Linked DNA regions of Homo sapiens. The protein of the gene in region 4 interacts with the protein of the main gene of each other region in a biochemical or structural test. Each region holds a gene or a part of one and is shown on either strand. Other genes may lie near its edges.

Region 1 (3,500 bases), on a different chromosome or scaffold from region 4:
TAGATGAATTTTAATGTTTACAAGTGCAAAAGCAAATAAATATTTACCAGTTGCTTTTTTTTTGCACTCTTATAACTCCACAACAGCTTAGACGCAAAAAAAATTGTTGCTAAACATCTTGTAGTCTGGCAAAATGAAGAATTTCTTATTAAGAAAAGCCCTCACAACAATAACAACTCCTCATGCTTATGGCTCCCTTGCAGAAACTATCAGGATGGTTCATTAAGATTTGAGCATATGATAGAGCAACAAAATTGCCACCAGGAGATGAGGATCTCATGCCCTGGCCTCACTGTCTATACACTGGCTCATTCCCACAGCAATGGGAGCTCTGGGAGAGAGGGCCGTATTTCTTGGGCAAGGACCATGGGCCAATACCAGCTCTCCCCAGGCTGAAGCCTTTCATTCTGTAGGTTTCCATGAACAAGCCACTTCTCCAGAGTGGCCTTTCTTAATTAAGGTAGGTCCCTATCCTCTCCATAATTCTCTTGGACAGCATCCTGTTTATTTCCTCTATTACCATTTCACAATCGAAAACTTCAGTTAGTTAGTTTTCCAGCTTGCCAGTTAACCATCTAGCTTGCCGACTAACCACCATCTAGCTTGCTGGCTTTCTAACGTTCCTGCTACCTAACTTCTGGGCATGCGCTCCAGCTAGCTACTGTCTTGTCATCTGTCTGCCTTCCCCTTTAAACTTTTTAGGCAGGGACTAGGATCCCCTGGGACAGCACCCTGCCCAGTCCCTGGCACCAAACTAGCCATTTGTAGATACATTATATAATGAATATGGAATGAAATCTTAATAAATAAACTTCTTAAGATCGATGGCTTTTTTTATTCATGTATATCATTGCCTGGTTGAAGTCCCTGGAGTTATTCCGAGGCAAGAAAACAAATATCAAAGAAAGACTTACTCCAGCGTAAGAGAGTAGGCTTTTGGAGTAAAACAGGGACACACACATACACATTTCACATGTGTGCACCTTTTCTATGACAGACATATATGATTCTAAGAATATTAAGTACCTTCTGAAGCTTCACCTTCTGCTCCCAATTTTTTGAAAAAGGGTACGACTATTCACAGGAGCAGGAACCCTCGAAGAAGACCTGCACCACTTACCTGGATTAACAGTGATAAATCTGCTGTCTTCAGAAAATCGGTCCCCGCGGGACATAGGCTTTTTAGATGGCATTTCGGGCCTCTTGGGATCACTCCCTGCATACTGCTCCTCTGTGGCGGTGGGGGGCACTTGGGTGGAGGTGACCATGTCGGGGTCCAGGCCTGGGCCGGCATCCCTCCTTCCGCCCGTCTGGTCTGTGGGGACGGCAGTGTGATCCTGCTCATGCCCAGGTATAGTCTGATGCCCTCCCTCGGCAGTCCTGTTAGGAGACGAGGGTGTGGGGCTGGGCTCCGTCTGATTCCGCTCCTCGGCAGCGTGGGTCACCCCACTCTTCTCCTTCTTTTCGGAGTCCTTCTCTCCATCCTCCTCGTGCTCCCGCTCCCCATCCTCACTCTCGCTTTTCTCATCCTTCTCTCCTTCCTCGGTGCCCTCGCCGTCCTTGGTTGGTGACGAATCACCATCGGGCCCTGGAGAAGCCAAGGCCTCTGTGGTGGCTAGGACTGGCCTAGCCGCCTGCTTGCTGGCTGAGGCGGCCGTCGGGAGGCGCGTGGGCCACACAGTGCTGGGGAAAGAGGAGATGCCACCACCGCCGAACCCCAGGCCGGCGAGCAGCGTGCTGGTGACCACCGAGGCCACTGTGGCCTGGCTGCCACTGGAGGAGGGGCCCATCCCAGTTGCCATGGAAACAAATGAGAATGGGATGCCAGAGGACGTCCAGGTAGAAGACCCCGAGCTGATGGGGGCCATGTCGGCTGAAGAGGCAGGAGACGCTGTGGGCTGGAAAGGGTCACCCGGCAAGGGTGGAAAAGAGGCAGAAGAAGAAAAAGCAGAGAAGCATCAGTAATTGAGATTGGGAATGAGGCCCTGGTTGTCACCCTCTGAGGATTTTACTCATCTATGCTATGGAGTTTTCCAATGTATGGCATAAAGTTGACATTAGGTGGTCCATGGGTGATCAACTTTTATTTTTAATGGTTTTATAATTGTGAACATGTTAAAATGCATAACTAGTCGATCAAACTCAGCTTTTCACTGATATTACCCAAGATGAGGCTAGGTGCCAAAAAAACTAAGTAGTGTTAAAGCTGACTTACACAACAAAGAAGTCATGAACTGGAAAAATCAGATGGTCATCTGTTCTTGGGGTGATGAGAGGCAGAAGACCTTTGATTTTATGTATATCACTGACACTTGAGTAGATACTCAGCTCTAGGTCTGGAAAGATACTGGGTGATCCAGTCCAACCCCACTGTCTCCCAGTGAGGAAGTGGGTGGACAAGGAGGGAAAGCAGCCTGCCCAGGTCTGCAATGACAGGGTCAGAGGCAGGAGCCATGCTCTGCACTGCATGCTCTGGGCACTGGTTTACATCTCTGCATCTCCATGTTGGGCACTGCAGAGTCACTGTACCTTGCAGTTTCTAAGTTGATCCGTGGGAAAATCTGAGCCCATACAGATGACAACAACATCAACAACAATAACAAGAATTCCAATTAACAAATGCCAACCGTGTGCCAGGGCTTTCCATGCTACTCTGGAGGCAGGCATGATCATCACCCCATTTTGCAGGTGAGGAAACTCAGACACAGAGATGTTAAAGAGCTTACACAAGGTACATGACCTGGAAGGCACAAATGCAGGGCTGCCTGGGTCTAAGACTCGGCTTGTTCTTACCACCATACTAAACTGGGGCTCAAGTCTGGGGGTTTTACTCACATAAGGTATCTTAGGAAAACAAGAAGTGCTGCTCTGAGCTATTAGTCTAATTTTAGCTTGCCTGCTGGGTGATGCTGGACACATTACTTTAACTCACTGAGCCTCGGTTTCCTCATCTGTAAAACGGGAACAACAGTAACACTGACCTTGTGGGCTGCCTGGAGAAGTAAATAAAATAATCTGTGCCTGAAACCCAGGAAGAGCATAGTGAATTTTAGGCTATTATTATTATCACCACTGCTGTGATTAGTATTTTAATTATTCATTATACCAACCAGGAATGGGGAAACTAAGATATTAATTCTGGTTCCAGAAATTTTCAGATCCATATAACTTTACGCAAATGACAACCTCTGAATTTGAGTATATGTCAAATGAAAGGGTTGGAACAGATTTAACTCCTTTGTGGTCCTGCATCGTCTGATCCCACAAATCATAACTAAAAATATGAAGAATTTTTACCTTCACAAAATTATATAATATAACCACCTAACACTGTTGCACAGCTTGTGTTCATAAGGTACTGAATTATAAAAAGTGAATAATGTAATTTTTTCTCTACTATAACCGCTTTACACTGAGCAGTTTAACAACATTATACTGCCACTTCGTGGTGACAGTTTTAACTGCAAGCAAATTAACAACCAGCCACGACAAAGCAATTT
Region 2 (3,500 bases), on a different chromosome or scaffold from region 4:
TCAAATTCCTACTTTGGCCATTTCCTAAATAACTTCAGGTAAGCTATTTAACTTCTTAAAGCTTCTGTATCTTCATCTATGTGCAACAGACGTAACAGTATCTGGATATGATGCAGTTAGCAGAATTAAGATGCCTGATCTACCACAGAAATTCATTAAGGTACTTATTATTATTACCGTAGATTAAAAAATTAGCAACCAGTCCAGATTCAGTGGCTCACATCTGTAATCCCAACACTTTGGGTGGCCAATGCAAAAGGCAAGATCACTCAAGGCCAGGAATTTGACAGCAGCCTGAGCAACATGGCAAGACTTCATCTCTATAAACTATAAAAAATTTAGCTGGGTTTGGTGGCTCATCCCTATAGTCTCAGATACTAGGAAGGTGGAGATGGGAGGACTGCTTGAGCTCAGGAGTTTGAGTCCAGCCTGGGCAATATATAGTGAGACCCTGTTGCCAAAAAAAAAAAAAAAAAAGTCGGGGCGCTGTGGGGGGTTTCAACTAAAAACAATATATATCTAAATGAAGACTTAGCTTTGATAGTGACTTTTCTTTAACAAATTGTAAACCAGTAAAACAGGGTAATAATTATATAAACAATGCAATAACCTGCTTACTGCAATAGAATAAAAATATTTGCTGCAAAGAAGGTATAACTATTCCAAATTTAACAAATTTAGGGTATGTTATAATTAATATTACTTTTTATGTAATGTGATAAGCATAAATGTCAAGACTAAATATTACACTCTCATTTCATCTTCGTAACTAAAAAATTACCAAATTTCATTAATTATGTTAAATAACATAGTATACTATTTATATAGCTTGTTTTATTTTTTTAGTAGCTAAAAGTTGATTAGTTTGCAAAGACAAAAACTAACTTCACATGCTTTAAAAATAAAAATTGCTGTTACTTTTTTTACTTACAAAAAACTATAAAGCAGATATAAAGCAAAATAATAATATATATTATATATATTATTTGCATTTTGCAGATATAAAGCAAAATAATTTTCTAGCAAACCCATTTTACCAAATAAAACATTTAGGTAGTAGTATTATATTTTCTATTTTTAAAACATTTATTTTATTTTTTATTTTATTTTTTGAGACAGAGTCTTGCTCTGTTGCCCAGGCTAGAGTGCAGTGGCACCATCTCGGCTTATTGCAACCTCTGTCTCCCAGGCTCAAGCAATTCAAGTGCCTCAGCCTCCTGAGTAGCTGGGATTATAGGTGTGCACCACCATGCCCAGCTAATTTTAGTATTTTTTAGTAGAGATGGGGCTTCGCCGTGTTGGCCAGGCTGGTCTTGAACTCCTGGCCTCAAGTGACCAACCCACCTCAGCCACCCAAAGTGTTGGGGATTACAGGAGTGAGCCACCATACCTGGCCTCAACTTTTATTTTGGATTAAGGGGTACATGTGCAGCTTACATGGGTGTATTGTATAATGCTGAGGTCTGGAATACAAATGATCCTTACCAAAGGAGTGAGCATACTACCCAATAGGTGGTTTTTCAGCCCACGCTCCCCTCCCTCTCTATGTCTTCTCTTTGAAAACTATTCTCTATTCTCAAAACCATTTTTGAGAGTCTCCCTCTGTTGCCCAGGCTGGAGTGCAGTGGCACAATCATGGCTCACTGCAGCCTCAACCTCCCGGGCTCAGCCTTCTGAGTGAGTGGGACTATGGGCACATGCCACCATGCCCGGCTAACTTTTTTCTTTTTGTAGACACAAGATCTCACTATGTTGCCCAGGCTAGTCTTGAACCCCTGGACTCAAGTCACCCTCCCACTTCAGCCTCCCAAAGTGTTGGGATTACAGGCATGAGCCACTGCACCCAGCCTGAAAACTATTCTTACAGATAGTCTATAAATGGTAAGTACCTACATTTTGAAATTCAAGTAAGAGTGTCCTGATGAAGTAGTCTGTTCTTGCTTGTTCATCCTCCTAAATAAAGAGAAACATTTCTAAGTCAGTGAAAACGTTAAAACAAAAAGACACATCAAAACAAATAAAATACTTGTATCAAAGTCCACAATATAAAATTAATCTTTAAAATTCCAGATGTACCTGATAATTATAAAAAAATTCTAAAAGTCATCAAACATTTGAAATGTTTGAAGTGATAGACATGCTAATTATCCTGATTTAGTCACTCCACATTTTAAATTACACATACATGTACCAAAATCACATGTACCCCATTAATAAGTATAGATACTATGTGTCAATTAAAAATAATAAAAGGAAAAAAAGAGCTAGTAAGCCATGAAAAGACATGGATGAACCCTAAATGCACATTACTAAGTGAAATAAGCCAATCTGAAAAGGCTACATACTGTATGATTCAAACTATATGACTTCTGAGCTGGGAGCAGTGGCTCATGCCTGTAATTCCAGCACTTCAGGAGGCTGAGGCAGGTGGATCACTTGAGGTCAGGAGTTCGAGACCAGCCTGGCCAACATGGTAAAACCCCATCTCTACGAAAATACAAAACTTAGCTGTGTGTGGTGGCGCGCACCTGTAATCCCAGCTACTCAGGAGGTTGAGGCAGTAGAATTGCTTGAACCCAGGAGGCAGAGGTTATAGTGAGCTGAGATAGTGCCACCGCACTCCAGCCTGGGCGACAGAGCAAGACTCCGTCTCAAAACAAACAAACAAACAAACAAAAACAAACTATATGACTTCTGAAAAAGGCAAAACTATGGAGACAGTAAAAATAATGACTACCTAGGGTTGGGAAGGGGGTGAGATGAATGAATAGGTGGAGCACAGGACTTTTAGAGCAATGACACTATTCTGTATGATACCACAATGGTGGATACACGTCATCATATATTTCTTCAAACCCACAGAATGTATAGCACCAAGAATGAACCCTAATGTAAAATGTGAACTCTTGGTGATAATGACTTGTCAATGTAGGTTTGTGAATTGTAACAAAGAGACTGCTCTGGTAGGGAATGTTGATAATGAGGGCTACATGTGTGGGGACAGGGTGTATATAAGAAATCTCTGTACCTTCCTCTCAATTTTGCTGTAAACCTAAAACTGCTCTAAAAAAAATAGTCTTGAAAAAGTTAGGCAGTGGCTCACACCTGTAATGCCAGTAGTTTGAGAGGCTGAGGTGGACGGATCGCTTTAGCCTAGGGGTTCAAGACCAGCCTGAACAATATAGCAGAACCCTGTCTCTACAAAAAAATACAAAAACTAGCTGGACATTGAGGCGTAAGCCTGTGCTCTCAGCTACTTGGGAGGCTGAGGTAGGTGGATCACTAAGCCCAGCAGTGAGGCCAAGGCTATATAGTGAGCTGCGATCACGTCGCTGCATTCCAGTCTGGGTGACACAGTGAGACCCTGTCTCAAAACAAAAAACACTAAAAAAAAAATTTTTTTAAAAACCTTAAAATGAAGTCTCCTATCAGATAAAGTCTCCTAACAGATAGACCCAAACAATATGTACAAATAAGAGAAGTGAATTTGGGAATCAAGT
Region 3 (3,500 bases), on a different chromosome or scaffold from region 4:
ATGTACTAATAAGGACCAGAATACCAAATACAGAGGCAGTTCAATAAGTAAGCAAACAAATAAATAAATATGCTGACAAAAATATAACATTTCAGTTCCTGTTCCTAGAATATTTTTCACATAAACTGCTCAATTAACAGACAAGCCTTACTGTCTTCAGCAGTTCTGTTTTTTTCCAACTCAAATATTACTAGAACCATAATGTAACAGATGTGCAGACATAATGAGATTCCATTTAAATTAACATCTAAGATATGCATGAATATTATGAGATGATTGAAGTTATCCTTTTTTTCTCCACTGAAATGAGCAATAGGAGTCGATATGATTCCATTCCCTGCTCATAGTTATATACATATAGACTTATTAACCAGACACACACGTAGTCATTTTGATATGAGAGACACTGAAACATGATAATCCTAATCACACACTTAAAATACATACCCACAGAGCTGGTGCTTTAAAAAACAGAGTAATGTTTCTCTCTAAAAAGAGCTTAATTTCATGAAAGTTACTAATGTTTTCTTTTCCAATTCTGCTTGTTATTTGGTTACATAATCTAAATTGTTTTTATTAATATCTTTTTTTGGGGGACGAAGTCTCGCTCTATACAGCCTGGGGTGCAGTGGCGTGATCTCAGCTCACTACAACTTCTGCCTCCCGGGTTCAAATGATTCTGCTGCCTCAGCCTCCCCACTAGCTGGGACTACAGGCATGCCACCACCATGTCCAGCTAATTTTTGTATTTTTAGTAGAGATGGGGTTTCACCACGTTGCCAGGCTGGTCTTGAACTCCTGACCTTATGATCTGCCCGCCTTGGCCTCCCAAAGTGCTGGAATTACAGGCATGAGGCACTGTGCCCGGGCTTTATTAGCACTTTTTTTTTTAAGATCTTCCCCACCCACATTGAATTTGTCATGTAGTGGAAAGCAAATGAGGAGTCAGAGAAAGACGATACAGTTACTACTTTGCTGCTGGGAAAAGGCATGGTGGTAGCAGCACTGGTTCTACCTTTAGATCTGCTTAGAGCCATAGGTTGAGACGTTTAGGAAGATGAAATTGCAGGTAGGATAATCAATAATGAACTTGGAACAGTGACATGGAACCCTTCTATAATGGTTGATCCAACATGTCTCTTTCCTCCTGCAGTACAGTTTCTCTGTCATTATTGTTATTGCAATGTTCTTATTTTTTTTATCACATGCCATTTCTGGGCTGGATGTCAATACTAATAAAACATGCAGTCATCCTTAAGATAAGTCTACATACACTCAGAGGCCAGGCCTAGGCTGTCCAACTTGACTGAGCCAGTGCATCTGTATTTCCTGAGAGAATATGCTAGTCTAGTGACTGACCGAAAAACCTAGCTTCCAGCATTTCTGTTTTCCTGTATTTTTATTCGAGTACTAAGGCATAAGATGGTTACTAGCTTTGAGGTGGATGATATAGTGCTTATTAATTGTAGTCTCCCTGTTGTCTGAATAAAATTATACCACATCTTGGTTATGACTGACCTATTCTAGATCAGCTCAAAGGATCCGATAGTGACTTACTCTTGTTAGATTGCATATCCTAAAAATCCGGTTGATCACATCACAGTCCATTGAACAAGACATACATTCCACTTGGATGGGGCCATATCGTAGCATCCCTTCCTCTGGCCAGTACTGAGGGCAGCCCTAAATGATGAACGTTTTGAAAGAAAAAAAAAAAGAGTATTATTTTTTCTAGTTAGGAGAGTATAAAGCAGATTTTAGCAATTCATTACTACTCTATTAAGTTGTATATAAGTACATAAAAGCAATCCATAGCCATTAACCTGGGACAAGTCGACTTCGTTTAACATCACAATGGAGGTACAGCCATAATCATACACTAATCTCCAGAAGTCTTTTACAGTGTTTGGCAGAGGGTATTGTGTGACGATGAAAGCAGCTGGTTGCCTGTAGCTCTGTGAAGAAACAAGGTAGATGGAGAAATATAAAAACTTAAAATGTATGATCGGTTGTACAAACAGATACAATACACTTCAATGTAGGACCAGTAAGATGCAATAGCTTCATATGCAGAAGGAGCCAGAGTGATGATTAAACCATGGAATAGGAGATTCAGACCACTGGAATGAACTGAATTAGTACAGTAATGAATCAATTTGGTGGAAGACTTCAATGCTTCCAAAGCAATTCAAGTCAATAACTGAGTTTTTACTTTACTGAAAGACGTAAATACAGGACAAATACAAAAGAAGAAACTAAAAAGCTTCTGAGGTTAACATCCTCTGTAAGGTTCCTGTTGGGCTATTTCAATTTTCCAAACGTAATCAGTCTCTGAGAGGCTGAAGGCAAAGTAAGCACAAAACCCCTGGTATGTCTATCAATCATCTGGGTATGTGTATAGTGTGTGTGCGTGCAAGTAAAATTGTTTTACTCTTCTCCACTCCAAATAAGAAAAACCACAAGTAGCTCAAACACTTGTGCTTTTACATTATGTGGACACTACCAGGATATTCTGCACATCTTGCAGACAATCCACCTTCCACAGCTTCCTGGGCATTTCTAACATATATCAAAGGTCATAATGACAGTCTCAACCATTTAAGATCCTGAAGCACCAAAGCATAACAGCAATATATTTCCTGTCCCCACATAAGCGGGGAGATAGCTCCTTGTTAACCAAGTCCTCCTTGATTAGAACACAATATATTATCTCTTTCCAAAGGGAGAAGTAGTAAAAACAATATTTATCTGGACTGGACAATTGCCATTTGATTTAAACTAATTATTTGCAATAATAATAATAATAATTAGTAGATTATAGAGTTCCCTAATGCTGACAAAAATTTTCAATGATCTTGTAACTCATTTGTATCATACTACTATTTAAGTCCTTCAAGAATCTTAACATCAGCACAGGAACTGGTTCTTGGACTTCACTGATGCTACCACCATTTGGGAAATGCTACCAACCATGGCATTCAGCGTTGGCTGAAGACTGCAGGATAAATCTGAGTAGATGACAATAATAATTTACCTGGCTACTTCTAAATGACCTCAAAACCTTACCAAGTTACACGTGCAGCTGGGATGAGTGTCTCCTAAGAAAGGCAGGAAGGTTCATGAGTCATATTGTTTGGCTCTGTGTCCCCACCCAAATCTCACCTAGAATTGTAATAATCCCCACATGTCAAGGGCAGGACCAGGTGGAGATAATTGAATCATGCAGGCAGTTTCCCCCATGCTGTTCTCCAGATAGTGAGTGAGTTCTCATGACATCTGGTGGTTTTATAAGGGGCTTCCCCCTTTGCTTGGCACTCCTTCCCCTTCCTGCCACCATGAGAAGAAGGACGGGTTTGCTTCCCCTTCGGCCATAATTGCAGGGATCCTGAGGCCTCCCCAGCCCTGTGGAACTGTGAGTCAATTAAAACTCTTTCCTTTATAAATTACCCAGTCTCAGGTATGTTTTTATTAGCAGTGTGAGAATGAACTAATACAATGAG
Region 4 (3,296 bases):
TGAGTGCAAGTGGCGTGATCCTGGCTCACTGCAACCTCTGCCTCCCAGGTTCAAGCAATTCTCCTGCCTCAGCCTCCTGAGTAGCTGGGATTATAGGCATGTGCCACCACACCCGGCTGTTTTTTGCATTTTTAGTAGAGACAGGGTTTCACCATGTTGGCCAGGCTGGTTTTGAACTACTGACCTCAAGTGATCCACCCACCTCAGCCTCCCTCTCGGATTACAGGCATGAGCCACCGTGCCAGGCATTTTTTTTTTTTAGTAAGATAAAATAAGTATAAAGCATAAAGATGGTTGTATATTAACTTTTTCTGATACTCTAATGATGTTTTTAAATAACTATACTTTCTAAATAAGAGATTTTTAAAATAAAAATCATCCCTCATGTTATGCTACTTGTAACAAAACACGGAGAGGTTTCTTTCCTGAGCCCCCTCCTTCTTCCTCCATTCCTATCAGCTGTTCATGTCGTTCTATATGAAACACTGGTCTACAGAACATTTTCAAGTATATTTACTCTTTATTGCATTCCTTCATTTGCATTAAACAATATTTTTTCAATACAGTTTTGGACAAAACACAAAGACATTAAGCTCATTTAACAAGAGACATAAGTTAACACAATGTGTGCTGCTTTCATGAGGAGGAAAGAGGCAAGATCTTAGAGGAATCCAGGATACTGGCCACCAGGAATCACAGGATCTCACAATACAATCCACTTCTTTAAAAGCCACAAAATAAGCTAGGGAAGAAAACCCAAAACAAAGAAGATATGACATCCAAGTCTCCACCAAAAGTATACAAATGGCAAGATTTGGAGATGATCTGCTTTCTCACATGAGGACAAATAACAGAGGAGCCACACCCAAGTGCCACTGTGGCCACAAGCCTCATGGGTGGCGTGTGAGGTAAGCACCTTAGGATGGCTTCTAATTGCTTGTCCTTGCATTTTAAGCAGCAGTTGGGAGAGAGAGGCACACTCCATAAGTCTCATCACCAAATATGACCTAATTAAATTCCTGCTAAGTCAGTCAGTTGTAAGACAAATCACCCTCAAAAGGACTCAACGGGTGCTTCCTTTTGGAAGAAGTGTGTGGAGGGTAAAGGAAATGTGTTCAATGTATTGGAATGGACAATAAAGGACTGAGGGAGAGGGCTAGAAAATGATTGATTTTTCTGGAGAATAGTGTTTTAGACACTAGATAGTACAGATCATTTAAAATAAAGGATAAATTCTAAGTAAGTCATTAAGCTAAGGAAAAAGCAGTGATACTAGTAAGCCTTAATATTATACTAAGGAATTGACCCACTTGGAGTTGGACACTAATTAGTGCTGAGAGGTTTGTAAATTACTTTAATAACTCCTTTCTGTTTGGGGGTGTATGCTTTTTCCATACCTATCTTTCACATGTTTTTAACAACATCTTCTAAGTGGTAATAATGAGCATATCTCTTACCACAGAGCAAATTAGTTATACTTAAGGGGAAGTCACAACCAACACGGTAGTCATCTGACTTTCTATTAAGAAAGATCTTCTGACTGCAACTTGAAAACATCTCTGACAATGATTGAGAACAGCATTTTAGAGATTCAATGCCTTGTTTCTTCAGGCAAAGAGAATACCAGTCTTGTGGGAGACCTTTAACCAAATACCCAGTGACTTTTAGTGTTAGCTCAGGACAGCTGTCAGAGGATCTCTGGCCCACACCTCGATTTACTAAGCCAGATTTGCATGTAGAAAGTCTGCCTTCTAATCGGCCAACTGTTGTCATGCAACATTCATGACACTGACTGAGAGTTTTCAAGGGTGATGGTGCTAGTAGAGAGGTTGAAACGTGTAGTGTCCACAAGTACTGGATGGTTCCCACCCAGAGGGACTGAGCAAGAAGGAATCACTTTAGCCTGCATGGGAAGGTAAGCGCAGCATTCTAAACCAAATTGACACCTTCCACGAGACACTAAGCTATCTCAGTATGCATAAGGAAGGGAGTTTTATTGCACTAATCATGCAGAGCGAGCACATGTTGAAGGTAGAGAACGTTCCACTTAGTCCAGTATCTTGAGTAAGACAGTGAAGATCCTAGGCCATCTTCACCTTGGTCACTTCCCTTGGTCACTGTGTGTTTCAAATAGTTCATTTTCAATCAAAATCAAGGGGGCTACTGCAAAAGAAATACCAAAACACAAAAAAACAGATGAGGGTCCGTAAAAAACTATTCATCAAAAAAAAAAAAAAAAAAATCACTAAAAGCTTCTTAATGGTTATCCTACATTTCCCACTATGCATTTGCTATTAGATGAGCACTTCACAAAAGAAAATGGTCACAGCTCCATGCATGTAAAAGCAGGTTCCAATAAATATGTACCATTAAGTTTTTCCTGCATTGTGACAAGGAAGTTTTGCGAAGCAGGACAGGGAGAGCAAACCAACAGTACAACCAACTTCCTTGCTTGGTCTCTCGGACCTACAACACAGCGAAGAATTCAAATAAATGGAAACAAACTTATCTAGGAAAGCAACTCTTAGAATAGGCACAGGGATTTAACAGGGTGGTAAGTTTGGTTGATGGTCATTAAATGTTGTATGTACTTACGCTCCTTCTTCTCTTAAGAGGGCCAAGAATTTTCTCACACGGTATTCAGGATCCATCTAAATACATCAGAAGAAATGAAGATGGGTTAATGGTACCTTCTAACAACTCTGCACTTGCTTCATGAGAAGGCAGTGTTCGGTTTCACACTTCATCAATGCTCTGCTAGGTCACTGAATGTGTTACCTGCTCCTTGACCAGCATTCTCACACAAAACAAAGCAGATCACATCATTTGGAGGAAGTGAATGGGGTTTTCCAGAACTATGTACACTGGGTTCCAAAAGACCCAAGCCCGCTGGCCATCATAGGCACTTGGGCCAGGCGTGCCCTGTGCTGATGCCTGTGAGGCATCGCTGTGAGACTGGACAGGGCCATTCATCAGAGTTCAAATGACAACCAATTCACCTGTTGAAGGTGTAAAAGGCTACTAAAGTCACAGCAAAGTAGAAGATACCAAGTTGAGGTTAATTCAACAACTAAAAAATAGCTTATTAACTCTACATAACCAACCATGTAGCTTTTCTTAGCCTCAGTATCCGTCATATAGTTTCTTCTTTGTAGTAACAAAGTTGTGCTAAAACTAAAAAAATGAAGAGTACTGCTGATTCCTGAAATCATCTCCAGATGAATCTGGGTCTCCTGTGACTGCGAATGTGTCATGAGTCTAAGAAAAGATGGCGCAACTTTGTTTCAGGTGCTTCG

What was found.
Region 1: of the proteins of NSF (region 4) and PTPRG, one has a biochemical effect on the other in vitro, tested with the Homo sapiens proteins (one large-scale study listed by IntAct).
Region 2: of the proteins of NSF (region 4) and PTPN12, one has a biochemical effect on the other in vitro, tested with the Homo sapiens proteins (one large-scale study listed by IntAct).
Region 3: of the proteins of NSF (region 4) and PTPRK, one has a biochemical effect on the other in vitro, tested with the Homo sapiens proteins (one large-scale study listed by IntAct).

The regions. Positions count from the first base shown.
Region 1 is NC_000003.12:62,201,571-62,205,070, reverse strand, and holds part of PTPRG (receptor-type tyrosine-protein phosphatase gamma isoform 1 precursor), read right to left. Parts: intron 1,899-3,500; coding exon 1,121-1,898; intron 1-1,120.
Region 2 is NC_000007.14:77,596,295-77,599,794, reverse strand, and holds part of PTPN12 (tyrosine-protein phosphatase non-receptor type 12), read right to left. Parts: intron 1,954-3,500; coding exon 1,894-1,953; intron 1-1,893. UniProt on the Homo sapiens protein: Dephosphorylates a range of proteins, and thereby regulates cellular signaling cascades. Dephosphorylates cellular tyrosine kinases, such as ERBB2 and PTK2B/PYK2, and thereby regulates signaling via ERBB2 and PTK2B/PYK2.
Region 3 is NC_000006.12:127,975,100-127,978,599, forward strand, and holds part of PTPRK (receptor-type tyrosine-protein phosphatase kappa isoform b precursor), read right to left. Parts: intron 1,956-3,500; coding exon 1,824-1,955; intron 1,684-1,823; coding exon 1,558-1,683; intron 1-1,557. UniProt on the Homo sapiens protein: Regulation of processes involving cell contact and adhesion such as growth control, tumor invasion, and metastasis. Negative regulator of EGFR signaling pathway. Forms complexes with beta-catenin and gamma-catenin/plakoglobin.
Region 4 is NC_000017.11:46,754,669-46,757,964, reverse strand, and holds the end of NSF (vesicle-fusing ATPase), read right to left. Parts: intron 2,652-3,296; coding exon 2,596-2,651; exon of another isoform or gene 2,592-2,595; intron 2,164-2,591; coding exon 2,142-2,163; 3' UTR 501-2,141; downstream 1-500.